2 linked regions of the Homo sapiens genome follow. The protein of the gene in region 1 interacts with the protein of each later gene in a pairwise test. Each region holds a gene or a part of one and is shown in the gene's direction. Other genes may lie near its edges.

Region 1 (15,851 bases):
AGCAGAGGAAGAAATAACAAAGAATAAAGGACAAGGTATAAAGGAGATTCCTTGAAAGCTGCAACTTAACAATTTGGCCACAGCTTTATCAAGTAGCTACATCTAGCAGTGAGACTAAATAATATAATCTCTATTCCAGGAAGACTCTGTTGTGCTAAGGATTAAGGGTGTTCTTACAAAGAAATAAGAGAAGAGTGAATATCACGTTATGTAACTATCAGTGCATGCCGTGATATGTTTGATGTTCATTTGAGGTTTATTTGTAAGCGTCTAACTTATTTCCTCTTCTATTAATAATTTTTGCATGAGAAGATCCAGATTCTACTATTGACATTATTTCTTTTATATCCTTAACAAATATCTTTCCATCAAGATGTGCTCTTACTTTTTTCCCACTGTATATGGGATTCCAATAACTACTCCACTAGTGGACATAGAAGCAATGTCTAGATCTAGTTCCAGTATAGCTCCTCTTTAAATTCTCATTTGTATTTTGGTCTTCATTTAAAATCTTTCTCTAATATAGTTCAATATTTCTGTTTTATTTAACCTGTAACTGGTCACACTATTACATCAATGACTGTGGTGTGTTACTTTAATTTTTGAGGGCTTATAATAATCTTCTAATATCTGTTATGGAAAGTTTCCTTTCACTATTATTATCCATTATTATTAGAGTTTTTGTATTTTCTTCATAATTTATTTTTTAGGCAAATTTTAGCCTCAGTCCTAAAAATCTTTCCAGAAAGCACATCTAAAAATCCTGTTAATATTTCTCATTTATTGTACAAATTTATAAATTAACATGTTGATAATGTTGAGTCTATTGAGAAACATTGTATGACTTTAAAACTGTTCAATTTTTTTGTAGTCTTAGAGATTTTTCCAAACAGATCTACCATAATTATACATTTATATGTTGGCCCTTTTGTTGACAATAAAATGAGGACTTTTCTTCCATTTTCACCTATTATATTTCCCAATTGCTTTTATATATAAAAGCTATTGATTTATATATAGTAATTTAGTTCTTAACCACTTTAGTAAATTTTTTCTTTGTAGTTACCCTTCTAGTTTATTCTCTTATGTTTTCTGAACACTGTCATATCATCTATAAGGGAAAGTACTAGCACATCTTCATTCTCAATTTTATACCTCTAATTTATTTATCTTTACTAACTTTATTGTTTGGTATCCTCAAAGAAAAGTTAAATGATTATAATGCTGGTGGTCATTTTTATTTTATTTCTGACCTTAAAGGAGTGCTCTTAAGATTTCTCCATTGAGAACAATCTGGCATTTGGTTTTAGAGTAACACATCTTACAGTACATATTCACGTATATATTCTTATAAACATTTAATATACTTTTAAAATTTCCAGAATGATTGCATTCTTGATCTATAGTAGCAATTCCTACCATTCCCTTTTATATTAATATATCTGGAAAATTTATTAATTATCAAATGGCTATTGGGTAAATAATATGACAGGAAAAAAGAGTGGAATCATGCTGTAGGATGTTTAATGTGGACCATGCCAGGAACAAGCAGTACCAGTGACCTACTATGAAGCATATGCATCTAATTGTGTAAATAATTGAGATTTTCAGATGCATTACCTATTAATAAGGCAAGAATTTTTACTATGTGTGAATAAAACTTCAATAACAGTGGTTGAAACAAGAGAGTGGGGTGTTTCTTGCTCAGGTAAAACTCAGATATAGGAATTCAAGGACATCTCATGGCTCCACAGCCCTCTGGGACTCAAGCCACCTCCAGCTTTGCATTCTGTCATCCCTAAGATAGTGCCTTGCGTTTAGGGGTCAGAATTGAATTTCAATCATCACATCAATAATCCAAGCCACAACATGGAGGAAGGGAAGAGGAATTGACATGTGCCCTTCATTTTAGGACATGTTCCAGAAATTGTGGATACTATTTCTATTTATGTCTCTGTGGTCCACACTTAGTCACATGGTTGCTTGTGTAAAGCAAATTGGAAATTTAGCCTTAATTCTGGGAGACCATATTCCCAGCTAAAATTCTACGATTCTTTTACTAATAAAGAATGAAAAATAGATATTAAGAATTAACTAGCAGGTTTTGTTCCAGCAGGCTGACTTTCATTATTGAATTGAGCTAATTAGATATTCTTTAAGCTTCTTTCTTGAAGCAGAACATTGTATTACAACTGGATCACACATATTTTTAGTACACATTTGAAGATTATTATAAATCCTAGTATTTCCATCTCCAGCTATTTAATATTTTCCATGAAATATGTTAAAGTATTTTTATTAGAGGGAAGCATTCTAAAGCCATTTGTGATGTATTTTGTAATCACAATGCAGCCTGGGAAACTTCTGGAAGGTTTTTGTTGATAAATAGTTTTATCTAATACATTATAAACAAGCCTAACCTTGTATTTAGGTTCTGACACAGTATTCTGACGCTGAAGAGTCTGGGAAATTTAATTGTCCTAAATGTTAGCTAATACATCAATTTCTTCTACATTTTCACCCTATCCAGGAAAACAAAAAAGCAAAGTGTTGATATGCTGTGAGGTTAGCAAATATCATGACTTCCTCTTCCATTCTCCAATAAAAGCCCTGCTACGATCGCAATCCCCAGCTCTGGCACAATGGCTTTTCTTCCTTCCTGGGTTTGTGTACTAGTTGGTTCCTTTTCTGCTTCCTTAGCAGGGACTTCCAATCTCTCAGAGACAGAGCCCCCTCTGTGGAAGGAGAGTCCTGGTCAGCTCAGTGACTACAGGGTGGAGAACAGCATGTACATTATTAATCCCTGGGTATACCTTGAGAGAATGGGGATGTATAAAATCATATTGAATCAGACAGCCAGGTATTTTGCAAAATTTGCACCAGATAATGAACAGAATATTTTATGGGGGTTGCCTCTGCAGTATGGCTGGCAATATAGGACAGGTAAGAATGACTCTTGTTTTCATTGTAATGATCTACCGATAGACCTATGAAGTATTTGGGAAATTGGACTCTGTATATACCCTACTATGTTTTTAAAAATTGATTCTTTATCTTGTTCTCTTTTCCCTTATAATCATTGTTTTTCTACCTATCCTTCTCCTTATCCACAAATCCTTCTTTTGTGGGTTGTGTGTTATTATTAGAAGCTTCAATGAGGCATAAGACATAGTTATCAACTGTGAAAAGACATCACATCTCATCTATTGAGCATTTCACAAATATTTGTTGAAGTTCTACTAAGTGCCACACTCCTTTCTAAGCAATGAGATGAACAAAACAGTCAAGGGGATATACAAAGTGATGTCCAATTAGTTTGAATTTCTTGAAGTTCTAATTATGATATGAGGTTATAAAGAAGCATCACATTGTTCATGAAGATCTTTCTCTGTAAAATGTTTGCTTCCTCTTGGAAATAAGGTACCTTACAGTGTATAGACAGAAGTTACATTTTGGGATAAAATATACATGAATTGAAAGATACTTTTGTTCTGGTTGATAGAAGCTCATGAGAAAGAGTGGTGCCTGTTGCCCACTCCCTGCTGATGACACAGCCAATAAAGAAATTATTGTGTGTGAGAGAGAGGTTAAGAAAAGAGCAATTTCATTTGGAAGAAAAACAATGATTATTTTCTAATATTTACATAATGCATATTACAGGTGAAACACCTTTGGTGCTTTTTCTCACCTCACATCACAACCTTATAATGTAGTTAATATTATTATCCCCATGTCATAGATGAGAAAACTAAGGCATTAGAGGTTATTTAGATAAAGTCAAGCTAGTAAGTGGTAGAGCAGGGGTTTGTTTTGACTCTCGACCATCTCTTTTCATCTGTATGCATATTGCTTCATAGTTTCGATTAGAAGGTAGAGGAGGAAATAGAAGAGAGTATCCTTACAAAAGTAAATAATATTTAGGACCTATAACTCAAAAGTAGAAAACTGTGTTGTTAAGGAAAAGGAAAGAAATTAGAAACTAAAAAATAAAAGATAAAAAAAGAATGATGGGAATACAAACACATATCATTCAGAAATAAATGCTTTTGTATCTACAAACAAAATCTATGTGGTTAAGCAATAGTTACAGCCAGTTTCAAAATGCGTATAATAAATACGACTGTGCATCCTCTCTCCTCCAGGCAGATTAGCTGATCCAACCCGAAGGACAAACTGTGGCTATGAATCTGGAGATCATATGTGCATCTCTGTGGACAGTTGGTGGGCTGGTATGTTCGTTTAAGTGGCAAAATAGATATTAACCTTTCCTGAAAGAAAGCATTCAAACCTAAAATCTTAGGGACAGAGACAGAACTAAAATAATCCTGTTCCTATTTTAAAAAGGAATCTATTTCACCGTGTACCTTATGGCCTTTAGGTCACTTTAAGGGATTTAAGAGCCACAATGTCAATAATGATTCCTTAGGACATATCCAGCTTTTCACAGAAGGACGAAAACAAGGTTCTGCAAAAGCAGTGGCCTCTGAGGGGCCAGCTCTGGTAGTTAGGTGGGAGGTCCAACTGATGACAAAGAATCTCCAGAATAAGGAACGATGAGAAGTGAGACATCAAGACAAATGATGCTTTTTCATTTTGCTCAGACCAGATGTGGTTAATATTGAAACCCATAAACATGCCAGAGATTAATACCTACTGCAATTCATTATACCAATCAGTAATCTCAGGCTTTAATCATATACTTAATGCTAAAATAACCAGAAGGTATTTTCTAATTCTTTCATTTAATTTTATGCTTTAGTAATGAAAACAATTTATACCACAAATCCTTAGAGGTATTTCTCAATAGTTAGAAACACGACCACATTAAATTTCACTTTTTCAGGGCAACACACATCATATGTATCCTTAAGCATTTTCCACTTACTACCCCTAGTTCTTTTAAAAGACTCGCGAATAGTAGTGGCCACAGATCTAGAATTCAGAGTTTGTTATTCTTAGATTGGTTTAGTAGTTTGGAGGATTAGCCTGCTACACTGTGGCATAGGATTCCATTCACAAATGCCTGTCTAGGATGAAATATTCTACATCACTGATTTCTAGTGGAAATCAGTATAAGCCTAATATCCAACTAATGAAAATGTCTGAGTCTGCTGGAATAGGTGATATATAGGTAAAATTTTTTAAAATGTGAAAATAGTCATGTTTGATTGTCAGTCTAATGGTCTATTGTCAAAACTTACCCAAAATTTGTGCTTTAAAGGATAAAATAAGATAAAAATTTAGTGATATCATGATTACAAATTAAACTTATGTGTATAAAATAGAAAACATTCATTTACCAAAGCTATAATCATGTTAAAATATTTTAGAGAAAAATACAAGTACAATTCACAATAAAACCGTAATGAGAGGTTTTGTACCATTTTGTGGAAAAGTTGATAGCTTTCTTCCATTCTTACTTAATGCTTTGAAAAAATGAATATTATGATATCCATTAAAATTACTTTTTGTTTTAAAATATAGTCAACTACTTTAGCCAATATGTTATATATTTATGACTATAAGGTTATTAACAGAAATGCAATCAAAGTTATATATTTGATCCTTAGGGGGATTTTTGTTCAATATTTTTTTCCTAATGGTTAGCTTTTATAATGTTTCTGGGTCTGTGAATTTTTTTATGACTTATGCCTTCCTTAAAAATATCCTCTTTGAAATTTGTTAGTGCTTGTAGTAATAGTAAATCTTTTGTTCTTACAGATTTGAATTATTTTCTGTCTTCATTACCCTTTCTTGCTGCGGTTGATTCTGGTGTAATGGGGATATCATCAGACCAAGTCAGGCTTTTGCCCCCACCCAAGAATGAGAGGAAGTTTTGTTATGATGTTTCTAGCTGTCGTTCATCCTTCCCTGAGACAATGAACAAGTGGAACACCTTTTACCAGGTTCCTTCTTTATACTCTTACGAGATAGGAAGAGAGTTTATTTTGTCATATAATTTCGTCTAGGATTTTTTTGTGCATTACATAATATTTTCCTTAGTATGCAGATGTAAATTGCTATGCATGATATATTAATAGTATATTGTAGAGTGTTATGAGTCATTAACACCTACTGCCTCAATACAGCATTAACATAAATCTATCCATTCTTCTTGCCTCAAATACATTATACAAAAATGGTGAGCATACAGGATATTTTGCTGAATGATTAATAAGCTATTCTGATTAATTGAGTCTTCATGTCCACTAGGATATTGGAAGAAATTTGACTAAAATCAATGAAGAAAAGATATATTTACTAGTACTTTAGTAGATTATTGCATTAGTTTAGATCTAATGAAACATTTTAAGAAGATATTTTTGTTACTCACGATTTTATGGTAATTTTAACAGTGTTAACAGGAAAAAATAAAGGCCTGATCGGTATAAAATATAAACTCTGAAAATACTTGAAGTTCAATACTTATAGATGCATATGCTATTATTAAAACTAATGAATATTTTTGTGTTATTTAAAGAGTGTTAGGCATTAAGGCCATATACATACTTTTTCTTAGAAATAAAATTCTTCTTTTATGTACAATATTGCTAAAATATATCTGAACATGACTAAATTTCAGGGAGAAGGATTTTATAGTTGCTCAAATATTAATAAATTTGACCTCTTTACCTTAGTATTTGCAGTCACCTTTTAGTAAGTTTGATGATCTGTTGAAGTACTTATGGGCTGCACACACTTCAACCTTGGCAGATAATATCAAAAGTTTTGAAGACAGGTAAGAATGAATCTTTAAAGTATCTCTATTTAATATGATAAATAATTTTGGGCATTATTTATATATTTTTCTTCTTCTTCTAGAGTGTTTTTCAATCTTTATATTAAATAATAAGCCTAACCATTGGAGATTATAGTGAGGATGTGTAAATATTTTAACATGATCAGGCTTAAAAAAGTGTTTTATGAAGAAGGGGAAAATTTTGAGAAAAAAAAGCCTTGCATGAAAAAACAAAAAAAAAAGCAACAGACAATACATTTTCCTAAATGTAGAAAACAAAATATAATATAAATATGTAGATGACCTTTATTATTTAATCATAGACACTGTTACAAGAAAAACTATAGATAAGATAAATGTAGCAGAATTCACTTAAGCAATGAATGATTCATTAATCAGCATCATCCTGAACCAGTAGAGGTTCAGAGAGCTTCACCCAGTGATGTGGGCAGGCAGTATTTATAGACAGAAAAAGAAAGTGACATATGGAAACACCTTGATTGGTTACAGCTCAGATTTGCCTCATTTGGACATAGTGTGGTGAGAAATTTGCCTTGTATAGGCATGGTTTGATCAGTTGGCAGCCTGTGATTGGCTGAAGCTCAGCTGCCATGATTGGCTGAGACCCATATTTGTTACAAGAAAATACTCTTAAGTTTGGTTGCAGTTTGTTTACAAACTACATTAAGTTGCAGTTTGCTACATATCGTGGCAATTTTAGGCCAAACTTAATTTAACAATTCCCCACCTTTTGGTCTGCCTCTCAATTTTGAGAGGTTGACCAAAACCTTGGGCATTGACATCACTCTCTGTCACTTTCATCATTGACTTATTTGGTATCAGTATGGAATTCACAGTTCACAAATCAGGACAGTTGACTGATTATTTATGTTCTCTTTATGTTTTCATTATTCTAATTTTAATGAGACCATTTGACATAGAATGAATAGCTGCATAAGAGGATTTAAGACTCTGGGGAGGTTAAGGTGCACCAGGGAAACTATTATGATGGCTGTCAGGAGGCTGATACTAAGAGACAGAAGGAACCTCAATGAATTGAACCAACATAAATCAAATATATAAATAATAAGCCAGAAGAAAAATCTACTTGTTTTAACCAATTGGCTTGTTTGTTGATTTCTTACAACTGAGCTTCTACCCTACCTGATGAATTTACTTAAGTACAGGAGGGAGTGTTAGCTAGCGCACATATTCCTCCCTAAAGGTAGTCCAAAGCAATCCGGTTACCTAATATGCCTTTAGCAAGAAAATCTAAAGAAGTTTGCTGGCCAATTGTAGCCTTTGCAGTAGAGTCAGCTGTAGTAACTAATGTATGAGACGTATTTCTAAGCATAACCTCCTTTACATTTATACAAAGCCAGGGAAGGAATTTTTTACCCAACAATACCCATTAAGAAGAATTCATACCTGCTGGTAAATTCCTCTTTATTCCATAGTTCAAATTAAGAGTTGCAGACCAATATCCAGTTTCCAATTAGTTATGGAGTGACAGGAGTACTCTTGGAATCCCTTAATTGTCGGTGGCTCCTTATTTTGTAATTATTGAGACATGGATTTGCCCACATATATGGTTGGTTGTTAAATCCTCCACAAATAAAAATATATTCTGGAAGAACCCTACAGATAGTCTCCTGTGTGAGATGCCTTGTGCGTTATGAGTCAGCATTATGAGTCAGCATTAGTAATATTTGTCTAAGGCCTCATTTTTTAATCATTGTATGGTTAGAAGATACTAGCAACTAAAGGATTAGGGTTATAAATTTGCCTACAAACGTCGAATTATCTTCCTTTTGTTTTTCAAATTCAATTCTGGCTTAATTTAATTACCATACTCTCATTATAGGTTTTGCCTACTGTTAGATTTAAACAGGCAATCTGAATATTTGAATCTAAAAGTCTAGCTGTTTAGAAAGAACTAGATATTGCACATGGAATATCAGTGAAATTTCTTACAGGGTGAACCAGAGTATCTCTAAGATCATGTGAGGATTTAGGTTTAACATGACATATGCAATACTCAGTTAAGTTCCATGCAGAAGTAATTGAGTATGAAATCTTCATTATCACATTATATTGCCATGTGTAGACAGAAAAGAAACATGGGCCAAAAAGGAAAAGGAGAAAAGACTTCATGTTGACAGAGGAGAAAAGACTTTATTCATGATCTTGGGAAAGCTGTCTACATCAAGGATGCCATCTTCTTCTGGGGAAAAAAAACGTTCCTAGTAAGCTTTACCTGGAGATCTCCGATGGGTGTACAGTCCCAGGGGTCTGGAGGGGCTCTCTTGAGTTGAGAAATGTGGATCCAAGACTCAAATCCCTGAAGTTGTGCTGCAAAAAAGAGCTTGGTGTGGTACCTTCTGATGGAGTTCAAAGGCAGTCTTTCTTTGGTGTCGTTTCCAAAAGAACTGATCTCTAGGTTCTAGAACATGGAAAATCTGGTTGTTATCAGCTGGTGGGCTGCAAAGGGCTTCTTTTATCTGGTGAAAATATGCTTTGGCAAAATGCATTGAAGCCTCATAATTTTGAGTCATATCAGAGTTTAGAAGAACATGAGATATATGAGATTTTATTATTAGAGACATAGTCCTTCCAAAAACTATTTCATAAAGAGTCAATCTGTCTTTTCCTATAGGAGTGGATTTGATTGCTGTCAATCAGTAGGACCTTTGACCAATGCAATCCAACAAATTCTATTAACTTTTTCTAATGCCATTTTGTTTGTAATACCTTTTTAAACTGTTTTACAACTTTTCTGATAAAATGAGTGCCTATATTGCTAGAGATGTTTCCAGGAATGCCCTATAAGGACATTTTCTAATAACCTTTTCACTATTGTTATAGCATTTGCCTTCTCGCATAGAAAAGCACTTATAAAACCAGAAAATATGCACTGAAGGTGGCAATTGAATTAAATATGTCTGTAGGTGTTCAAATGATCCAGCATGTGCCAAAAATATATCACTTGAGGTTTTTATTGCCTTACCAGCATTATCAGTTTAACAAACCAAATATTAGTGATAAGGCATTTCAGAATAGTCACTCCACCAATATTTTCCTCATAGTTTGGATTATTTTATCTCTTCCATGATGAGTATAGAGTTTTTAATAATGGAAGCTTTTAGGACCCAGGAAGGACTAGGAAGCCATCTGTGCTTTCCATGAGTCCATATTTAACATTGAATTTATATTTTTTTAAATGTCAGTTTTGGCTGGCACACCCAGCACTTTGGGATGCCAATGCAGGCAGATCACGAGGTCAGGAGTTCAAGACCAGCCTGGCCAATATGGGAAACCCCGTCTCTAGTAAAAATACAGAAATTAGCCAGGCGTGGTGTTGCAGGCCTGTAGTACCAGCTACTTGGGAGGCTGAGGCAGAAGAATTGCTTGAACCCGGGAGGCAGAGGTTGCAGTGAGCTGAGATTGCACCACTGCACTCCAGAGATTGGGGACTGGGTGACAGAGTGAGACTCCATCTCCAAAAAAAAAAAAAAAAGTCAGTTTTGTATTTCCAAATCAGGTCAATAGCTTGCTTATTAAATAGGTTATCATAGGTAATTTGACTTGAGTCAACCTCATGATATTTGTTCAAACTGCTTATCTAAACAATTTCAGTTCTGGCTGACATAGCATGAAAATCTGCCAAAGCATTTTCTTAGTAATCAATTAATTCTTGTTCTACTTGATGTTGGGTTAGAAGTTTTATGAATCAATCAATCTCTTCCTAACAGTTCTGGGAACTCTCATTCGGTCCAATGGGATGATCAGATTTCTAGGAATTTCATAAAATTTCTGGAACATATATTAATAACACATCCATACAAATACAACTTAAAGAAGGTTTAACATTACTTATTATTTGACAATGCTTTCCATATTATTTATCAAATAGGCCCAATTACTTTAACATCTCTCTTTTTGTAAGGACGGATATCCTTTTGAGATGTCCCAAAGGCCCATCTGCAAAGCCCCAAAATTAATTTGAGGTCAATAAAAATACTTGATTTAGAATTTGATTTTTTGGAAGCTTGCCAAAAATATCAAAGGTTTAAAATACTTGATCAAAATAGGATCACAGATCACTTGGAAATAATAGTCATCCATTTTAATCAGAGTGATAATTTAAAGACTTTAAAGGCAAATGCAGAAAAATTACATAGTTATAGAAAAACCTTCGATCTTTTATAGAGAGGACTCAGTTGTTTAAATGATCAAAAAACCTAATGAAGACAACATGAAGCACAGGAAATTATCTTAGTAAAATGTGGAATCTTTGTTTTGTAGGACAATTACTTCAAGGGTAAAGAAAAACTTTTCACAGTGTCATACTAAGAACAGACTAATACTCCAAGAAAACCTTGGCTTAACACAGGGAAACAAATTCTAGTTTTGCATCAGTGTACCTTTGATATTAATGCTTGATTTTTAGAAAAACGTATAAATAATTCTCTTCTAATTTTAGCCAACTTGATCAACACAAAATTTTTTTTCACAAGATTTATCTTTCACACACCTTTTATAACTTTCTTATACATTCAGTTTTTGTCCTATACTTCCTCTCTTCTCATTTTGGAACAACCTGTCATTCCATACCCGGATAAAATTTGCTCTTCTGTTTCTTGAACAAAACGAAATATCCTCATATATTATAGCTTTTCTTACCAAAAGCACATTTTACCTGTCTACTTGCATATAGCTTTGTTTTCCTTATTTCTAGTGATTTCAATTATATATAATTAAGAATCTTAACTCATATTAACCTAAATTTCCAGTGAACACTAGGAAACAAGCAATTGTGAACTGTTGTGCCAGTAATCTGTAGACTGATAAATCTATGAATTATACTTTCTAGAAGCACGTGTTTTCTCATGGTAAATTTGTCAGTGTGGCACAAAATATGTTTATTAACAGTCCCAAAAAGCAAAGGAAAAGTCAGGCACACAGACTTTCAGTCAGGCACACTGACAGGAAAAGTCAGGCACACAGACGCTTCGAAGGGTGAGGGGAATGGAATTTATGGGGCAAAAAGGAAAAAGGAAAAATAATTCTCAGCAAACCAAGAGAGTCCTGCTAGCAGGTTTCCTACCTCACAGTTTGAACAACAGGCCACCACTCGAGCTGAAGAGAGCAGGCTCCTCCCCTGTGTAAGGTGCAAATTCCCTGTGGCTCCACCCCATGCTGCCAGTGAGCATGCGGGCATGCTCAGACAAGGCCCTGGGCATGTTTCCTCATCTGCACAAAAGCATCTGAGGTAAACACTTGTGGGGAAGGTTGGAGGATCTCTGGGGACCCCTTTTTATCTGCCTAGGCATTTGGCTGTCTCAACACTATGGTTCCAATAACTTCAAGTCTTTTCTCTTGAGCTCACCCAGTTTCCAGAAGAGACTCTTTCAGTCACCTGCTTCAGAAGTGAAGGCCTGGCTGTTAGTATTATTGAAGTCAAGAGAGAAGGAAGAAGCAAGGGGAGAGTGTCTTTGCATTCAGTATATCATTTACACTTATATCCTGTTTCCAAGGTGGTGTTCCTACCTTCAACCATGTTTAGTTCACACAGTTCAAGGACCCTCTGTTCTACCCTTTCCAGGGCAAGGAGTGGCAGTTACCTACTATTTGAAATCTGGAAGGAAATCTTTGTATATGATTGCTTCTTTAAAGTCTTTTAATCTCCCTGATTTTAGCAATCTCCTTTTACCCAGAAGGTATTACTAAGACTTAAATCGAGGAGAATTCTACAAATTATATCAGCATTATTTTTCTATTTTCCTCTCTGTTTACTTAGAATTTAATTTTCTTGATTCTATTAAATCTTTTCAACTAGTTCTTTTCAATTTTCAGCTTCCAAAATCTTGTTGTTCCCCACGTGTTCTGATTTTATTTCTTGTGTCATTTTTATGGAGATTTGTTAGGTTGCAAAAGTACAAGTATTTGTTAAAAACAGCATTTTTACTAAAAAACTCTTTTACCTAAAAATTCCCTTCTATTGTCTCTTTAATTGGGATCAGTTCAGAATATAATAAAATATTGTGTTATGGATAAATTTATATATAGGTGCACTATTAAGAAAGCTAAAAATACATGTTTTCTATTAATTCACCTCACTGAAAGTTTAATAATAGTTCCTCAGGCAATTTGAATATTTTCAAAGGCTTATATTGGCAAAAGGTAAATCTTTTAATATGATTATTTTGGAAGATTTCAAATACCTGCTTATGTGCTCTGATTTGTTAATCTACCTGTTTATGAGGTCTCTGCTTTGTCAAGGTCTATGAATTCATATTACAAGATTCAAGGCTAATGATTGTTCCTTGAAATGAAGTAATAATGTACAAATTAAGATGTTTTGCTTTGAAGTTCCACAGACCTGAGTTTTAAATCCTGGCTCATTTGACCTAGGAGTTCAAACAAGGAGAAACTCAATTTTCTTATTTTTAAAATAGCAATAACAATAGTACATGCCACATAGGGCAATTTTGAGGATTAATTAAGAAATCCATAGGTTATGCTTAACGTACTGCTGGCATATGAGAAATATTCAATATAAAGTAACTATTATCACCATGACAAAAAGCAGTAGTAAAGAACATGGATTTTAAAGGCAAATTGACAGGGTTTAAAACAGGGCCCTGCAATTTACTATGTGTGAGGCTCTGAGTTAAGTTAGCTTTGTTTGAAAGAAAGCAGCCCAATCAACAATCACTAAACCTCAGTGTTGTACAACTGTGTTTATTGCTCAGATGTCTGGGGTTTAGATATGCTGCTCTGCTGATCTTTCCTGGGTTCACTCTCATGTTGGCTGATTTTGATTGGCTCCAGCAGGGATGACTGGGGAAGCTCAGCTCTGTTCCCCGTCTCATTCTACATCAGACAAGCCTGGTTGTTTTCCATAATGATGGCAGAATTGCAAGAAAGAATAACCAAATTGTGAAAATGTATTTCAAGTTTATGCTATGTCAAAATCGTTAATATTGTATTTTTTAAGTCAAGTTACATGACTGAGTCAGGAGTGGGAATTTCTGCCTATCACTTAATTTAGGAAGAACTGGTAATGAAAGTTACATAGCAGAAGACAGAATTGTAGGGATTGGAGAACAACTGGGGCCATGGTTACAATCTATTGCATGCTGTGAAACAACCCTAAAAGCTCATCAAGTTACTTTCTTTAGGCAAATATATATTAAGGAGTATTTACTTGAGACAGTACTGTATATTTTGTAGCTTGCATATACTCAAATAAAACTCTGTGGCTCTGTATCCTCAGATTGGCTGACTTATGTATGCCTGTGTTTCAACTTTATGTGAATCATTTCAAGTGTACTTTAATTCTTTCTTTGGTGACCACATTCTATCTGATCATTAGGTGAACTGACCAACAAATCATTCAACTGATGCATTTGAAGAGTTTATTATTGAATTTCTTCACTGCTCTTGTGATTTCTGTGTATTGAACTGGTGCACTCATCTCTTCTCTCCCAGTGATTCTGACTTACTTCCAATTTGTTTAGTACATTGTTACTAGACCTCTGTGGCCCTTGCTCAAAATCTTTATGACTTCATATTTCCTTTCATCTTTGCTTGGTAGGTGACTGTAATGTATTAAGGGGCATTGAATCCCGACCAAACACTTCTGTCATCGACAATCCAACTCTGCCCACCCTACCACTTCCAAGTATAGGGCAGGGAGGATCCCACAAGCATAGGAATCAAACAGATAACAGGTATTATCTGGGTTATGTTATAGTTTATTTAATCTCAACAAGCATAATGCAAGTACCTTCTGTTTAATGTATCTTTTCTATGTTGCTGTCAAAATAAAATCAGATAATCGAATTTCTAGACATGATAATAGAATATAACTAGAGAAAAAAATCCTTCAAATATGTGGATGATATAGTGTTATGGGAATATAGAAGAGAAGAAAGTGGTAGATTCCACCTCAGGTGGGCTGGAATGCCCTTCACCTTTGTGAAGAAGGTAATATCTATGATGAGACTTGAAACAGAATGTACCTGCTGAACCACATGGTGAGTACACAATGTCTCAGGGAGAACAAGTCTGTTTGCAAAACTACAAGTTGTTTAGCATGCTTAGACAGCTCATAGAAACAGAAGACATGACTTTTATAGTTCTAAAACTACTGAATATAACTTTAATCTTTCCATTGTAATTATTTGTCCCCATTTCTTAGGAGAAACTAAACTTTCTCACCTATTATGGGGACAAATAGTTACAGAGGCTTTTCTAATAATTACAGAGTCTTTTCTAACAATTACAGAGGCTTTTTTTCTACCTGAGGCTTCCTGTGGTAGAAGAATGCCAATTATTTACAATTTAGATCTAGATATTATTTTTCTAGAAATCTCAATGTTTCTGGGATCCCTGGCTTTAAGAAATCAACAGTTTCACAAAGGATATTTGAGTCTAGCAAAAATTTTGCTTTAGACCTTTGATATTTATCTCTACATTGGCAAAGAGTATGATTTAAAAATGCCTTACTTTTGGTTATTAGGTGGTATTCAAGTATAATGTGCTGAATTAAAGAAGATAAAATGCAATGTAAAATGTAAACAATTAGTGAGATGATTCTTCCTAGATTTAGAATTTTAATGAGCCAACTTCACACCTCCTGAGGGATGGAATAAAGTCATCACAATATCAAGCCTATTTTCTAAATTATAAAATTATGAATTTAGTTTGTTGGCAAGAACCAATATTTTCTGAAGGCAATGAGCTTGAACTTCTGAGGTGACTAATTATAATTAAATACTTTTCCGTTTGTCTTTTAGATATGATTATTATTCTAAAGCAGAAGCGCATTTTGAGAGAAGTTGGGTACTGGCTGTGGATCATTTAGCTGCAGTCCTCTTTCCTACAACCTTGATTAGATCATATAAGTTCCAGAAGGGCATGCCACCACGAATTCTTCTTAATACTGATGTAGCCCCTTTCATCAGTGACTTTACTGCTTTTCAGAATGTAGTCCTGGTTCTTCTAAATATGCTTGACAATGTGGATAAATCTATAGGTAAGAACCTTAAAAGGATACTTTTAAAAATCAGTATTATGTTGAACAAATAGAGGAAGAAATAATAAT
Region 2 (15,851 bases), on another chromosome or scaffold:
CCTTTTGGAGCCTCTTTCTAAGTGACCATTTTGTATCCTTTTGCAATGTTTTTCACAGCTTTCTTCCTGACACTTTCACCTGCAGTTGCGTCATCAGGATTACATTATCTTGGCTTGCTTTCTGCCCCTCTTAATTATCTTATTCTGTGTGTTTTTTATTTTAATAGTTGCTGCCAAATGACTTTCAAACCAACAAGCAAACAAGCACCAGCAATATATGAGTGTATCCTTTTCTAATACCATTTATTGCTGGTAAAGGTGTTACAGAAAATTTGAGGTCATCACCACCCTGATGGGTATATATCCATATACTGTCATTTCTTTAAACAGTATTTCCCTCACCAGTGTAAATTTGAACAACTTTTACTGTTTGTTTGGCAATTTGGATTTGCATATCTGCTGACTCGGAGGCATTTGACTGTACTCAGGTTTCATCCATTTTTGTTGTTTGGATTGCTTGCTTTACAATTGATAAGAGCTCCTGGTACACTGTAGATAGTAACACTTTGTTAGTGCATGTAAGGAAATATGAAGTTTTTGTAAGAATCTACTGATTTTGCTTATTTTTTCCACTTGAGGATTTTTATTTGCCTATATTAAAAACACCTCTCATTTCTTTTATAATAACAGGTTTTAAGCCACAGATTAGTCTCCCACCACAGAGATTATAAATGTTATTCTCAGAATAGATTATCCTGAATAGTGATCTTTTGCAAGTTACTTTTAACAAAGTATAACCATATTTGACTTGTAAATGAGAAAATGAGATTTAGGATTTATCAAGTTTCTCTTTGAAAGAAAATTTCATTTTTCTATTGGATAATAATCTATTTATGATAAAGTTAACCAAAATCACCCCAACCAATGCAAAGCAAACATTTATTGTGGCTTGGTCTGGAAAACTTTCATTACAAATTTAGCTACAAGATATTTACAGAATATCTTGTAAAGTTTATTGTTTGTTTTATATATTTACTCCCATTTTAATTCCAGATCCATCCAGATCCATGTTTTTTTATTTTTTAAGATAGTATAAAGATCCAGTTTTTGTTTAACTATGCTAGTTTAAAGAATTGTTTTAAATCACTTTTTAAACCTATTGAGTTAAAATAGAAATTGAAAAAAAGTCATTATTAAATTTAAGGATATTAATCTTTGGTTCGTGTCATAAATCCATGGAGTTGGCAATGATTATGTGAAGACTTGCTGTATTTTTTGTGTTCTGATTACATAAGAATTTTTGAATTATTATATTAGAAATTATATGGTCCTGGTATATCTTAGAAAGTATATAATCAAATGAAGTTCCTTTTTTTCATAATAGACTCTAGTTTTTAGAGAAATTTTAGGTTTACAGAAAAATTGAGCAGAAAGTACAGAGAATTCTCATATACTCAATTTCCCGCTGCTCTTAGTTTCCCCTGTTACTAATATTTTGGATTGATGTGGTCCATTTGTTATATTGGTGAACCAATATTGATACATTATTATTAGCTAATTGCCATAGTTTACATTAGGGCCTACTCTTCATGTTATACATTTCTATGTGTTTTGCCAAATCCATAATGTATGCATACACCATTACAGTATCATACAGAATAGTTTCACTTCCCTAAAAATCTCTTTTTTTTTTTTTTTTTTTTGAGACATAGTCTCGCTCTGTTGCCTAGGCTGGAATACAATGGGGCAATCTTGGCTCACTTTAACCTCTGCTTCCCAGGTTCAAGTGATTCTCCTGCCTCAGCCTTCTGAGTAGCTGGGACCACAGGCGTGCACCACCACGCCCAGCTAATTTTTTTTTGTATTTTAGTAGATGGGGTTTCATCATGTTGGTCAGGCTGGTCTTGAACTCCTGACCTGATGATCCGCCGCCTCGGCCTCCCAAAGTGCTGGGATTACAGGTGTGAGCCACCATGCCCAGCCCACTTCCCTAAAAGTCTCTTATTTATTACTCCTCCCTGCCACCAACTCCTGGCAACCATTGATCTTTTTACTTTCTCTATAGTTTGCCTTCTCCAGAATGCATCTCATTGGAATGAAACAGACATAGCCTTTTCATACTGTCTTCCTTTACTTAGCGATACTCATTTATGATTCCTTCATTTCTTTTCCTGGTTTAAAAGCATTTCTTTTTATCATTGAGTAATAGTCCATTACATAAACGTACTATAGTCCATGTATTCACTTACCTCTTGAAAAATATCTCAGCTGCTTCCAATTTCTGGTAATTATGAATAAACTGCTATAAGCATACATGTGCAGGTTTTTGTGTAAACATGTTTCCTAACTCATTTGGGTAAATATCTAGGAGCACAATTGCTGGATTGCATTGTAAGACTCTGTTTATCTTTGTAAGAAACTGCCAGACTATTTTAAAACAGCTGGAACCTAGAAAGCAGAGTTTGACCTTTTGACCTTAACACATATCTTCATTTTCCTTCTGCAAAACTTCTTGAAAATTATTGAAGTAAAATTTGTTATTATAGCGAATGTGACAAGGTCTTATTCTCTTACTTTCGAATAATATAGAGAGGGATATGGATACTATACTCAGGGATTAAACAAAATAACTTGTGCAATACAAAATTACTAATCCTAGCATGATCCTGATGTTGGAAGTATACTAGTTGAATCACCAAGTCATTCGCTGACTTTTCCTAAGTCACACAGTAATAGATACTAAGCCACCACCAAATTTGAGTTTTTATCTTCTCTAAGATTTTCCACCCACAAAAGGAAATATAGAGAGGCAGGGAGGTAAGATCTTTTTCCCTAAGTGAAGTCCAACAAAGGTACCTCCCTTTGGCTCTAGCTACCCACATGACTACTTCATTAACCTGAAAGAGTAAAATTTGAAAAAAAATTCTGTCTTTAATTCATGTGAATAACTGAGGAATAATAATAATAATAATCTCAATAACTCAGTGTGTGTGTGATAATTATTTGCCATGTTTAGAGGCAAAGGGAAAACATTTAGAATGTTAGCCCTCAAAATGCTTTGACCTGGGGACACATGAGAAACACACACTAAAATAATGATTTTTGTTGGCTGTGGATAGGGGGTATGAGGAAGCTGTGGGGAGATTTTGGAATATCTGTGAAATGCTGTTCTTGATCATTCAGAATATACTCTTTCTTCCATATAACAAGTAATGCTTAGATAGAGTTAAATGTAAAGGATGAGGGGACAGCTTACTAAGATCAGATATTTTGCAAGAGTCTTATGCACAATGAGATGTATGTGAGAGACTCCATATTTCCTCTCCTTGTTTTGTTTTGTTTCCTCTTCACTATCAGATTCTAAACCAAATGAGTGAAAATAAACATGCTGTGAAAAACGTAACATATAGAGATTGATTTTAACTGTCTTTTTTCTTTCCTTCTCTTTCTTTATTTTCTCTGTTTGTAAAGTAAGTGGAGCCGATGAATCATCATCTTCTAGAAACAGCAAGAGTGGTGAGTCATTTCTCTGGAGTATGTGGCATTTCACCCACAGAAAGCATTTAACCCATGATTATCCCCTCACTGTTAATGATAACATATTTTACTTGTTCTTTTATTTCCATAAATCTACTCGACATTATTATTATGCGGAGAAAAAGATTCTGACAGATTATTCACAGCAATATACCTACATGATTAGTGGCTTTCTTTTTGTGTTATGTTTGGGAGTTTCACTTGCCTTTAGTGTTACAGCTGGAAGTTAATTTTGGAAAAACATTCTTTTCACTTTTTTTTTCTTAATTCTGCTACAATTATCATATTTATTGTTGCTATTTTAGGTTTGCCTATGTATTACAAATCCAAACATATAAAATAATTCCATTCAGTTTATGGCACTGGTAATAGCAGCAACAAAGCAAAATGAGACTATACATGTTTTCTAGGTTGTTATATTTTATAAAAAGTAAGTGGAATTTTTTCTTCATTTCACAAGAGCATCACTGTGCAGGAATGTTCCAATAGTTCCATTACCAGAGTTAGGAATACAAACGCAAATTAAAGAAAAAAAGAAAACCAGATTTTGTATAATCATCTTATTCCTTCTCACCTGATGACATAAATATGGTATTAGAAAGTTAGTCTACATCTGTCAAGATCAATTTGCAATAATATCAATTAACTTAACTTGTTAGCAGGTAACTAATTAATTTTCAACTTACACATATGATAGTAAAAACATATATTGACATTTTCTTAAATATTTAGATTAGATGATCATCCTACTTCAGGATATGTTGACTTCATTGATATTGGCATCGAGCACTTAGAATGTATTATAAAATACTGCCAATCTTTAGAAAGTATTTTCATTAACTTCCTAAACTTCATGTTTTTTATGTGAAATATCTATGAGGAAAAGAGGAAAAAGAACAAACCACTAAATGCAGCATAAATTGAGCCATAATGCTGTGAGATTTTACACCTGTGCACTTTAATGGAAACATCATATAATACTTTGTAGGGTTTAAAGAAGAATGAAAATGAACCACTATGGAAGTTACCAGAACCAATTTTCCTCCATTGGGTGGGAAATTTCTTATGGAATGTGTTCTGTAATAGTTGCTGCTCCATTAATCCTTTCATTTTATAGGTCTAGTTCCTTGTTTTGGTGTTCAACTAGTCTACAATGTCAAAGATGTGTATCAAAATGTATATATAACTGATCTATATTACAGTTTATATATATAGTTCTATGTAACTGACTCTATTTAAAAGAATTAATGTAGATAGGCCTTCTGATGTCAATGCTTTTATTGAATGTCATAATGATCAAATTTTTGGCATTACCTTTGTTCAAAATTTTGAGCCAATCTGGAACTTTATTACTTCTATATTTCTTATTTATAACAACAAGCTATATCTAGGAACAAAAGTCGTTTATTTTTTAAGGCAAGAAAAATATAAATAGAAAATTATTCGGCACTGTGTAATGTTAAAATTTACAAATATATGTTATTTCTCCATTGTCACAAGAATTCTAGTGGGTAGACAACTTAGATAATGCTCCTATATACAAAAGTAAAAACAGCTAGGCATGGTGGCTCACGCCTGTGATTCCAACTCTTAGGGAGACAGAGGCAGGAGGATAGCCTGAGCCCAGGAGTTTGAGACCTGCCTGGGCAATATAACGAGACCCCATTCTCCACAAAAAGCGGGGGAAAAAGACAACAAAACAAAAGTAAAAACAGGTTCAGAAAAATTAAGTATGTCCCTAAAGTCACAGAATAATAAGTGATGGAGGTGGAATTCAAATGTAATATTTTGTTTGTTGGTTTGTTTAGTTTTGAAGGTAACATACTTTTTAGTCTACAACCTATTTAACTACAAAAGTGTGCCAATCACTGGTATTAGGATTGGGGCAGATGTATACTCTGAAAATAAAAGTGCAAAATAAATATCCCATCTGGAAATAAAAGTGCAAAATAAAGAGGGAGGAAAAATCAGCCCTTCCATTTCTTTTCCTTTGTAATGCCAGTTGAATTGGTTTAGTGAGTAGTTTTGCAAGACTTGTTTCACTTTGTTTTTGGACATAGCTGAGCCATGTACTTCAAACAGAAGGCAGCCAATTACTAACTTCTGGTTGCTAGGTGTGGCTTCCTTTAAAATCCTATAAAATCAGAAGCCCAAGTCTCCACTGCCAGTGTGAAATCTTCAGAGAAGAATTTCTCTTTAGTTCTTTGCAAGAAGGTAGAGATAAAGGTAAGTCTTGGTTTTCCTTTTAGTTAGTTTTGGTTGTTTTGAAAACTTTTCTCATCACTATGTTAAATGTTACTGCTTCTACAGGATTTATGGTTAGTTGCATTTAACATGATAAGTCATTCATAAATCTTTCTGTAGAATTACATTGGATATTTATATTTTAGGAATCACAAATTACAATATTTTTGTTCTACTTAGTTAACAAATACAAGTAAAAATAAGATAAGTTTGCTTAATACTGGCTCATTGTACTCTTGGTAAGTTACCATGAGAAAGAAGGGAAGAATGTGCTTTCCCTCTGGTAGCCTTAAAAGAATGTGTTTTTCCTTTCCTTCCCCTTGAAATATTTCTTCCCAAGAGCTGTGTGTTTTACAGAGAAATCGTGATGGGGGCTGCTTTTTGGGGGCAAGAACAAAAGTGATAGGAGTGGGCTGCAGGGAACTGTTTCAAAATAGTAGGACTTTCATAATTTATTTTCTTCTTTTGTAAGGAAAACAAGATAGATTCAGACCTCAAAGTGCTAATCATGCTCTTTGTAATAAACATTTAAAAATATATGTTATATTTGCTTATGCTATTTAAAATAAGAAGGTCCGCTTATTACTTTTTTCATTTAAAGAGGGTGTGGCCACATTCCTTTTCTTGTAGGCTCTGTGTCATATACAGTCTTTTCAAGTGCTGGCTGGAAAACCTAAAAAGAAGGGAAATACTTTCTGGGTAGTGTCAGATACATTATCCTAGGGGAATGTCAGTGAGGCCCTCCAACAGCTATTCCACTTGATTGTTGCATGAGCTAATGGCCATAAAACTCCTTAGAAAAGCACAAAGCAAAACTAAAGAAGAGTATTTACTAGTGTTGGATATATTTGTAAAAGTGAGATTACAAATCATGTATCTGGCTATTTTTTTCTTAAACATGTTCCTTCAAGAATTTTTCTGTTCGTTCATTTTAAATATTTATTAAATGTTCTGATTTCTTATGTTCACTGCTAGCTAATTAACAAGGATGGAATTTTTCTTGCCTTGGTTATATCTAAAAGATTGTAAAAACTTTGAGAAAGCAATGTTGCCCTCTTTCCACAGGAGTATTTTGGTAGCTGTAAGAGAATGCACATTGCAAATGACTCAAATGTGGTAAAATGTTGGTTTCATAATTCTGAAATGGCCTCTTCCCCAAAAGTGACAGTAACACCCTAGCTCCAGGCTCAACCACATCCAGCACATAGCCAACATTTAACAGATGTTGACAAAATAGTTAATAATAATATTATTAAGGAACCAGCCAGAGTTTCATGCTTATTAAATACTTTTTCAACCAGAAGGTCTGCAAAGGTTGATTTCTGAATATGACGTTAGCTCTCTCTAGACCTATTAATTTACGACATTTCAAATCAGAGGTAAACCAGCAGACCTATTATTTTTCAATGATAAACTATAAACAGTTTTTTGAAGTCAACTATTTCCTTTTCCTTTAAAATTGGACAGAATTTCATCAGGAAGCTCAGAACAATCCAATTTATATAATGCCTTCCTTCATTATGCTAATTTTCTTCATCTTCATCTACTTGAAGTAATATTTAAGATTGGCACTTCAGAGCTGTAAATGGATCTTAGATGATAATTACTTCAACATTCTTATTTTATAAACGAAGACCCTCTGGAGAAGCTAAATGTTTTTCTTGAGGTCAGATCGCCAGATAATCAAGAACCAGTATACTTCAATTTGTATTTTATATCCTATAGTTGTGGGTAGAAAATGTTCATTAAATTAGTGTAGATATGTTTTTTAAAATATTAGCAATGATACATGATATTCATTCAATAATACTTATTAACATCCTAAATTCCAGGCATTTTGCTAGGGATTGGAAGTACATACATAATGAATATTATTATTTGTATGTTAGCACGGGCCTCATGGCCTGCTCCTGGGGAATATAAACAAGCCAATGGAAAGTGATAATACAGAAAGGTGGGGCTGGTGTAGGGGTGAAGTCAGGATGCTTTGGGAGAGCATGGAAGGTCACCGAATCCAGTGCTGAGGAACTAATGAAGGGTTTCTGAAGAACGTGATGAGATCAATGCTGATGAGTCACTTAGAAGTAGCAATTAGTTAGGCAAAGGGAAGTGAATGTGGAGGAGGAACAAGCATTCCAGGCAAGAAGAACACCCTATCGAAAAGCCTGGAAGCAAAACATTAGTGAGGCTACCTTTCATAAATTGCTTTCTGTAAGTCATGCCATTGTGTAGTCTTAATTGCTTTCTCTCACCAGGGAAGGTGTGGGAAGGACTTGTGAAATACATATTCGAGGAAAAACTATGCACAAGGCCGTGCATTTAAAAATAAACTCCCTAAGGCTGGGGTGAAACCTGCTACGGTCTGCGCAAGTTGACTGTTAATGAATTTGATTCTCAGGTGTGAGTGATTAAAAGAACACTGATCATGTCATTTTCTTTTTGGTCACTAATTCCCTCCCTCCCTTCTCTTTCTTTTCTTTTTTCTTTTCTTTTCTTTTTCTTTCTTTCTTCCCGACAGAGTCTTGTTATGTCGCCCAGGATGGAGTGTAGTGGTACAATCTCGGCTCACTGCAGCCTCCGCCTCTTCCTGGGTTCAAGTGATTCTCCTGCCTCAGCCTTCTGAGTAGATGGGACTACAGGTGCACACCACCATGCCTGGCTGATTTTTGTACTTTTGGTAGAGACGGGGTTTCGCCATGCTGGCCAGGCTGGTCTTGAACTCCTGGCCTCAAGTAATCTGCCCACCTTGGCCTCCTAAATTGCTGGGATTGCAGGTGTGAGCCACCATGCACAGCCAAAATATATAACACTTTGGAATCAAAAGGGATGGATTTATGTCTCCATTCTTGCCACTACTAGCAGGAAGACTGCTTGAAAATAGCACTCAGTTTTCCCAGATAGAAACTGAGGATAATGATTAAAGGCTATTATTCCAAGCAAGGGTTAGTCATTGCTGTTACTATCATTGCAAAACTCTGATAGTTCTAGATTGTAACCAGGAAGATACAATCAACCACAAAACTCAGCTTCCTCTGTCACAAATTCTAGATAGAGGTAGCCTTTCATGAGGCTGAGAGATGGAAAAATGAAGCGGGGGGACTCTCTTAGGACACATAAATATGCAAAAAAATTGCTACGCTTTAGAAAGCTATACATTCAAATCATAGATAAGCTGACATTAGTAGGCAGTGCATGTTCACAAAAAGACCATTAATTAGAAGAAATGTGAAATATTGTTAATTTCCTTATAGATTTGCCTATGTATAAATGGCCAATTTCACCGTCAATGAGCTCATGCTAAGTACTGAAATAAACTTAGTTTTAGAGCTTATCTTTGGTTAGTTGAAATCTGTATTGAGTTAGTTGAAATCTATAAGTTGATAGAACAGGCTCTTTAAAATCTATTGCAAGCTTTATACACTACAAACAAAAAGATAGAAAAAAGAAAACCTTTCATGAACTCATTGGCTTAGGCAGGTTTTCATGCAGAGTGTAGGTATTGAAGAGTCAGAACGGCTTAAGGATAGAATTTGGCCAATATATAAAAAAATATATATTTGGTATTTGTTAGTTGTATTATAATTATTCAGAAGTTCAGTTAATACGTGCAGTTGGCTTTGAGCCCTTAACCAGCTGTATGTGATAAAATCTGTTTCCTTTAGAGCAATTTCTTATATCCTGCCTTGATGCTCCTGTCTTTAATCTTTGCTAAGAGCTGGTGGTGAATTTGGCTGAATTCAGATTCCGTTTTTCTCTAATTGATTTCTTGAAGAAAATTCTCTATTGGTTGCTTTTCTTTCCTAGATTATGCTTTTAGTCTATCCAAATACTTCAGGCTAGAATGTAGGAACTTAGAAGATACAAATCACAAAGCTGTCTCCTCTAGGGATGCTCTCTCTTTCAAATAAGTGACTTAAACAACTTATTTTTGTTATCTTGTGTTATGTAATTAATATACCTTTTCCTGGGCTTTCTCTGGCTTTTTTTTTAAATGGACATTATTCAAGTATTTTTTAGAAGTAAAAAAAAAACAGTACAGTAAAGTTTTTATAACGTTTATTTTGAAGTTGTCAGAGACACCTTTAATATTAGACTGGACAATATCTTTAGTCTTTCTTTTGCTTTCTTTTGAAGTTTTTATTTGCTAATTGAAAAGAATGGAATAATAATAATAATAATAATAAATAAATAATAATAATAAATAATATAAATAAATAAATAAATAAATAAAATAAATAAATAATAAAAACATGTTTTTATAAGTGATGGAGTAGTACTTTGCCAAGTGATGAATTTTAACACTCATTTTGATGATTCTTCCTTATCAAAGCCTTGGATGAAATGATGAAAATGGAAATTTTGAGTGCCTGAAGCTGCTAGAATTGCTTTTAAAGTATTGGGTGTGCCAATTAAGAAGGTGGAATATGAAACTCCATGTGGCAACCGCAATTGCATGAAACTAGACTGTAATGGGAACTAAAACCTTGTGCAAAATTGCGGGTTGTTACTTTATCAGGAAGCAATTTTAAGTCTATCAATTATATTTAGGAAACAGGCTGCTTTAAATGAATGGAAAAAGTATTGGTTCTTCTCACAGATGACAGAATAGTAATAAGAGCAATCCCATGCGAATTAAGTGGGGATGATTTCTGCTTTGGATATTATTTTCTTCATGCATTCAGTGTTATTACTTGCAACTCCAGTTACTTTTTAGCAGGTGAAAATGGAAAGAGTTTGTCTGAACATGCTGTTGAGGAATCAGTTTATGGAATCAGTTTATGCCTCATGAGTCATTTATCTTCATATCAAGAATTTAAAACTGCCAAGATTGTCCTCCCAACCTCTCTCACAAACATTCATGAGAGTAGTCTCTAGAGGGGTGAAACAGAATGGTGTAGATAGACAGATCAGTGTAGACCTTGAGCAAGGCCTCTGAAAAACATCCCCAGACTAAAAGGATCTGTGATGGCATTTTGTGTGTGTGTGGCCAAAACAGAGAACACATTAATTTTCAATATACTTAAGATCTTAAAAATATATGTCTCATTAAATAAAAATATTGCCAAGTCATGATAGCAATTCAAGAAATTTCCTTTAAGATAGAGTTTGCCAAAAGAACATGCATGTTACAATTGCACCTCTAGGCTTCCTGCTACAACAAAAAAATCCAGTATAAAATAATTCTTTTCTGGGTTTTTTGTGTTGGGTGGGAAAATATGTAGGACTACTATTTAGACAGCTCAAATAGGAAGAAATGTGAAGATAGCAATTACTTCAATGCTGAGTACTTTTATATCAAGAAATAGAAAAGGAAACTAAATTATTCAGGGAGAAATATCACCTGGATATCTTTTTACAATTAAAATTTTAAATCTGAATTCACTTGTACAGATTGGCACAAGTTATTTTACCTTATAAATGTAATCATTGGCTGGGAGTGGTAGCTCACACCTGTAATTCCAGCACTTTGGGAGGCCGAGGCGGGCAGATCACTTGGGGTCATGAGTTCAAAATCAGCCTAGCCAACATGGTGAAAACCTGTCTCTACTAAAAATACAAAAATTAGCCGGGCGTGGTGGCTGGTGCCTGTAATCCCAGCTACTCAGGAGGCTGAGGCAGGAGAATTGCTTGAACCCAGGAGACGGAGGTTGCAGTGAGTCGAGATTTCACCACTGCACTCCAGCCTGGGCGACAGAGAAAGACTCCATCTCAAAAAAAAAAAAAAAAAAAAAAGCAATCATTAAGCTTTTCATCTAGCCATTACTTTTGTACAGGCTCTCATTAATTCCACATAGATGGTCTAATGGTCTACTAAATAGTATTCTAATCCTCCATCTTGTCTATCTCTTAGCCATTCTCCATGATAAAGGATGAATGGTCTTTCGGAAACATAAATGAAACCATGCTGCTTTAAAAAAACAAACAAACAAAAAGAAACCCATTAATGTTTTCCCAAAGCTTTGTGGACACATTGAAGCTTCTTGTTTCAGCTTCTGCCAACATTTCTCGCTCCAGCAAACTTTCTTCTGCTTCCCAAATATGACAAGCTTCTTCTTTAACTTTTCTGCCAGGTTAATCTTGACTCATTTCAAGAGAGGCTTGGGTCAGCCAGGGCCTACTCTAAGAAGTTTCTTTAGCCCTTATGTTTTCCTATGGAGAGCACACACTAGCTTTAAGTCCTGAGGGTACTTAAGATGATATTTCAATGTTTTTGTACTCTTAGTGCTTGGCATATGGTGGGTGGTCTACAAATTTAGAACAATGTAGTGAACCACAAACTCCTCTCTTCAGCCTGTGTGCTTACTTGTAGTAGTTGTCTGATCTCTAAAATTTAGAACTGAATATGCCAAGAAAGAGTTCAATTTCAGAGAGGAGGGTATGGTTTCATTTTAAGTATAAAAGCTTCCTTTAAAAAAAATTACGTCTTACATTTTGTTATGCTCCTAAGTGTAATTGATCCTGGAAAGTAAGCGCAAGGCTACTCTCTAATGCTAACTCTTATGTATGTAAGAGGTGAGGAAGGAGAGGTTGTGTGTGGTGCATTTGTTTTGTAAAAGCATCTAACTGTTTTCTTTCCAGACACTTTTTCAAAAATGGCAATGGTATCAGAATTCCTCAAGCAGGCCTGGTTTATTGAAAATGAAGAGCAGGAATATGTTGTAAGTAGAGTGATAATAAAATTATGATTACAATATTGAAATAAAAACGAATATAAGTAAATGGCCATTAATTTATTTCTCTCTCATTCTTAGCAAACTGTGAAGTCATCCAAAGGTGGTCCCGGATCAGCGGTGAGCCCCTATCCTACCTTCAATCCATCCTCGGATGTCGCTGCCTTGCATAAGGCCATAATGGTTAAAGGTAACGTGTTTCCTCAAAACAGTTCCCTCCTGGACATTTCAGAATGGCTATTTGAATGACTGTCAAAAAACAGACATGTGCAATGGAAAGAATCTGTTTCATTTTGAAGATAAAAACATTTCTTTGCCAAACGAAGATGTAATTATTTACTTAACACTGAGGAAATTGTGTTCACATCAGTGGAATCTCTATTGTTACAGCAGATATTACTGGCTCATTTCTAGCAGAAATTCCATGCTGAAATTAAAAGCTCTGTTCACATATAGAGTTGCAACTAGTATCAAACACTGCAACACTGAGGGCCAGGAAAAGTTAATTGTCTCTTCCTTTCTCACTCGAATGAAATGTCATTCTCCCAAGTGCTTCCTTGATATGTAGTATAGCATCGATTTTTTAGGCTGATATATAATTTATATTTCTTAATTTGTTAAGAAGTTCTTTTGGAGCATCTCAGTAATGAATTATTTTATGTCAATTGATGATGAAGAAAATTGGTGTTAAAGGCTGTTGGCCCTTTATTTCCAGGTGTGGATGAAGCAACCATCATTGACATTCTAACTAAGCGAAACAATGCACAGCGTCAACAGATCAAAGCAGCATATCTCCAGGAAACAGGAAAGGTAAGTTAGAGTGGTAAATTTAGATATTTAATTTCAGCATAGTTATACTTAACCATGGATTCGGAAGCACAGTTACCTAGTTCTTTAAGGTTCTAACCACTGTTTTCTCATTACATCTATGATTGGGATTGCAGTGTTTATCCACTTTGTTGCAATTTAATCAATTTTATCAAATTTCCTATTTTTATACATTAGTCATCTTGGTGTATATTGTTTGCAGATGTGGTGCTCTGGGGACAAATTTTTAATTTGAACGTAAACATCGAGATTGCTGCTGTCAATAAAGAATATGGTCTGATTGAAATGTACTAATATTTAAACTGAACTGTTTAATGCCTAAATTTTATATATAATTCTACTTTAAAAATAAGCCTTATGTCTTTTATACCAAATATGAGTAGTTTTCTAAAGCAATGAAATTAGAAAACTATATAATTTCAGTATCTGATTATACTGCTTGTTATTTGAGAAGTACAAACCTCAAAGATTGGAAACATGAATATATTATTTTAAAAGTAATTTTACTTCTGTTTTCTGTTAGCACACAGTCCTCTGTGTTTTGATCTTTGTGATTTCTCCCCTGTGTATAAGATTACTAACCCTATGCTTTAAGAAGTTATTGATGAATTCAGTAAATTTTATTTTAATCCCTCTAGATCTGGAAGGGTAAGATAATGTTTCAAAATATTTGGTACACTTTGTATGTGAAGGGAAGAAGCTCTAAAAGATGGTTGGGTTTAGGGATGAGTTGTACGATGACCTAAAGTCAGGTAATATCACATTTTTTAACCTAGCATGTTACTTATTGGAAGTCCTGATTCTAATCTTTTTTTTTGTAGCCCCTGGATGAAACACTGAAGAAAGCCCTTACAGGTCACCTTGAGGAGGTTGTTTTAGCTCTGCTAAAAACTCCAGCGCAATTTGATGCTGATGAACTTCGTGCTGCCATGAAGGTAAATCGCCCAATTTGAGCAAACTCCTTTCCTCAAGAGGATGTATTGGGCAAGTCACTTATGCTTATGTTATTTTCAAAATCTAGTATAGTACCTGTCAATCAGTGGGAGTTTGAAGAATAAATAAATTAATACCTCAATGAAGGAATTAATATATAAATGAAAACAGAAATGTTGGCACTAACACCTTCCATGTCATGTCACTATATGAGTCATATATTTGCATTTTTATTTTTACCCAAAATATTGATGATAAACTTGTTTTGTTTTAGGGCAATGTAATAGAGCTTATTGTAATTATTAAATGTTGTGGGTGAAATTTACTAAATGACAGAGTCAAACAAATTTTGGAACACCAAAAACTCATTGATCCTCTTGCATGAAGATTTTTTTCTACATTTATCCTTTTCTTCTCTTCAAATTTAGGGCCTTGGAACTGATGAAGATACTCTAATTGAGATTTTGGCATCAAGAACTAACAAAGAAATCAGAGACATTAACAGGGTCTACAGAGAGGGTAAGTTGTAATGTCCAACAGTCCAAACGCCTTATTTGAAAAGGAAATCTAATATACTTTCTTAAAATTGACTGTCTATGGTAATTATGGCAGCTTTGGAATCTCCACATATCAAAATGTTTCTTTATTGTTTGGCACATGTCTATTAAATGCTGTTACCAGGCAACGCTTGAGTTGCTAGGTTGCTGACAAGGGAGATGGTGTCCCAATCCGCATCAAGCTTGCGTTTTAATAGAAAATGTTCCTCTAGGATAAATGGCCACATACGATTATAATGGAAACCTCAATTCAGAGCATTGAATTTTTAAAAATTTCTGAAAAACACTTTTCTATTATTCTGGAATGTATTTTATAAAAATGTCCCAAGGTCATTTTTTTTGAAAAGAATATATAATAACAAAAAAATCTCCTAACAAAATGTTTTTCATTTGTCCTTGAAAAAGTAAAGAATTAGGTGCTTATAATTCTCTGTTGGAAACCTTAACTTTATCGTTATGAACATAAGAGACTCACTTTATCTCTAGTTAAATTCACAGAATAAAAGACTAGTCTTAGCTTATTTTATCTCTCCAGTGAAGCATCTCATTTAAATGATGTGCTCAACACTGAAAAGAGGGTAATTGCAAGTCTCTTACCATTTTCCTACTCTCATTTCCCTGAGCTGCTGGCTTTTTGGCTTTCCCAATGCAATATATGGCATATAGAAGATCTTTCTGCTTGATTCTCATACCAAGCATGGAGAATACAATAGCTTTTGCATATCATTTTCAGAGGAATTTAATAAAAGAATAAAAATAAGGAAGCTTTTAAACCTCATTTTCTGCAATTCTTATTTAATTACCAATGTTTATGTTAGATCCATGTGTCAGTGGTAATAATGATGATTATTTTTGTTTGATAAAACATAGTTTATAAAAATAAGTGTTTATATATTTTTCATATGGCCAAGATATAGGCCAGTGATAGTTTATTACATTGCCCAGTTTCAAGTTGTTTTAGTCCGTTTGTGTTGCTATAAAGAAATATCTGAGACCAAGTAATGTAAAAAGAAAGGAAATACTGTACAAGTAGTATGGGACCAGCGTCTGCTTTTGATGAGGGCCTCATACTACTTCTACTCATGGCAGAAAGCAGACAGAAGCAGATGTGTGCAGAGAGGGAGAGAGAGAAAAGGAGGTG

Evidence for each region.
Region 2: the proteins of C6orf58 (region 1) and ANXA1 interact in binary tests that used the Homo sapiens proteins (3 or more experiments, as listed by UniProt).

What each region holds. Positions count from the first base shown.
Region 1 is NC_000006.12:127,574,544-127,590,394, forward strand, and holds the start of C6orf58 (protein LEG1 homolog precursor), read left to right. Parts: upstream 1-2,630; 5' UTR 2,631-2,642; coding exon 2,643-2,943; intron 2,944-4,142; coding exon 4,143-4,229; intron 4,230-5,721; coding exon 5,722-5,906; intron 5,907-6,638; coding exon 6,639-6,739; intron 6,740-15,543; coding exon 15,544-15,782; intron 15,783-15,851. UniProt on the Homo sapiens protein: May be involved in early liver development.
Region 2 is NC_000009.12:73,146,222-73,162,072, forward strand, and holds the start of ANXA1 (annexin A1), read left to right. Parts: upstream 1-5,643; 5' UTR 5,644-5,703; exon of another isoform or gene 5,704-8,102; coding exon of another isoform or gene 8,103-8,121; intron 8,122-12,300; coding exon of another isoform or gene 12,301-12,314; coding exon 12,315-12,380; intron 12,381-12,473; coding exon 12,474-12,582; intron 12,583-13,107; coding exon 13,108-13,202; intron 13,203-14,041; coding exon 14,042-14,155; intron 14,156-14,581; coding exon 14,582-14,672; intron 14,673-15,851. UniProt on the Homo sapiens protein: Plays important roles in the innate immune response as effector of glucocorticoid-mediated responses and regulator of the inflammatory process. Has anti-inflammatory activity.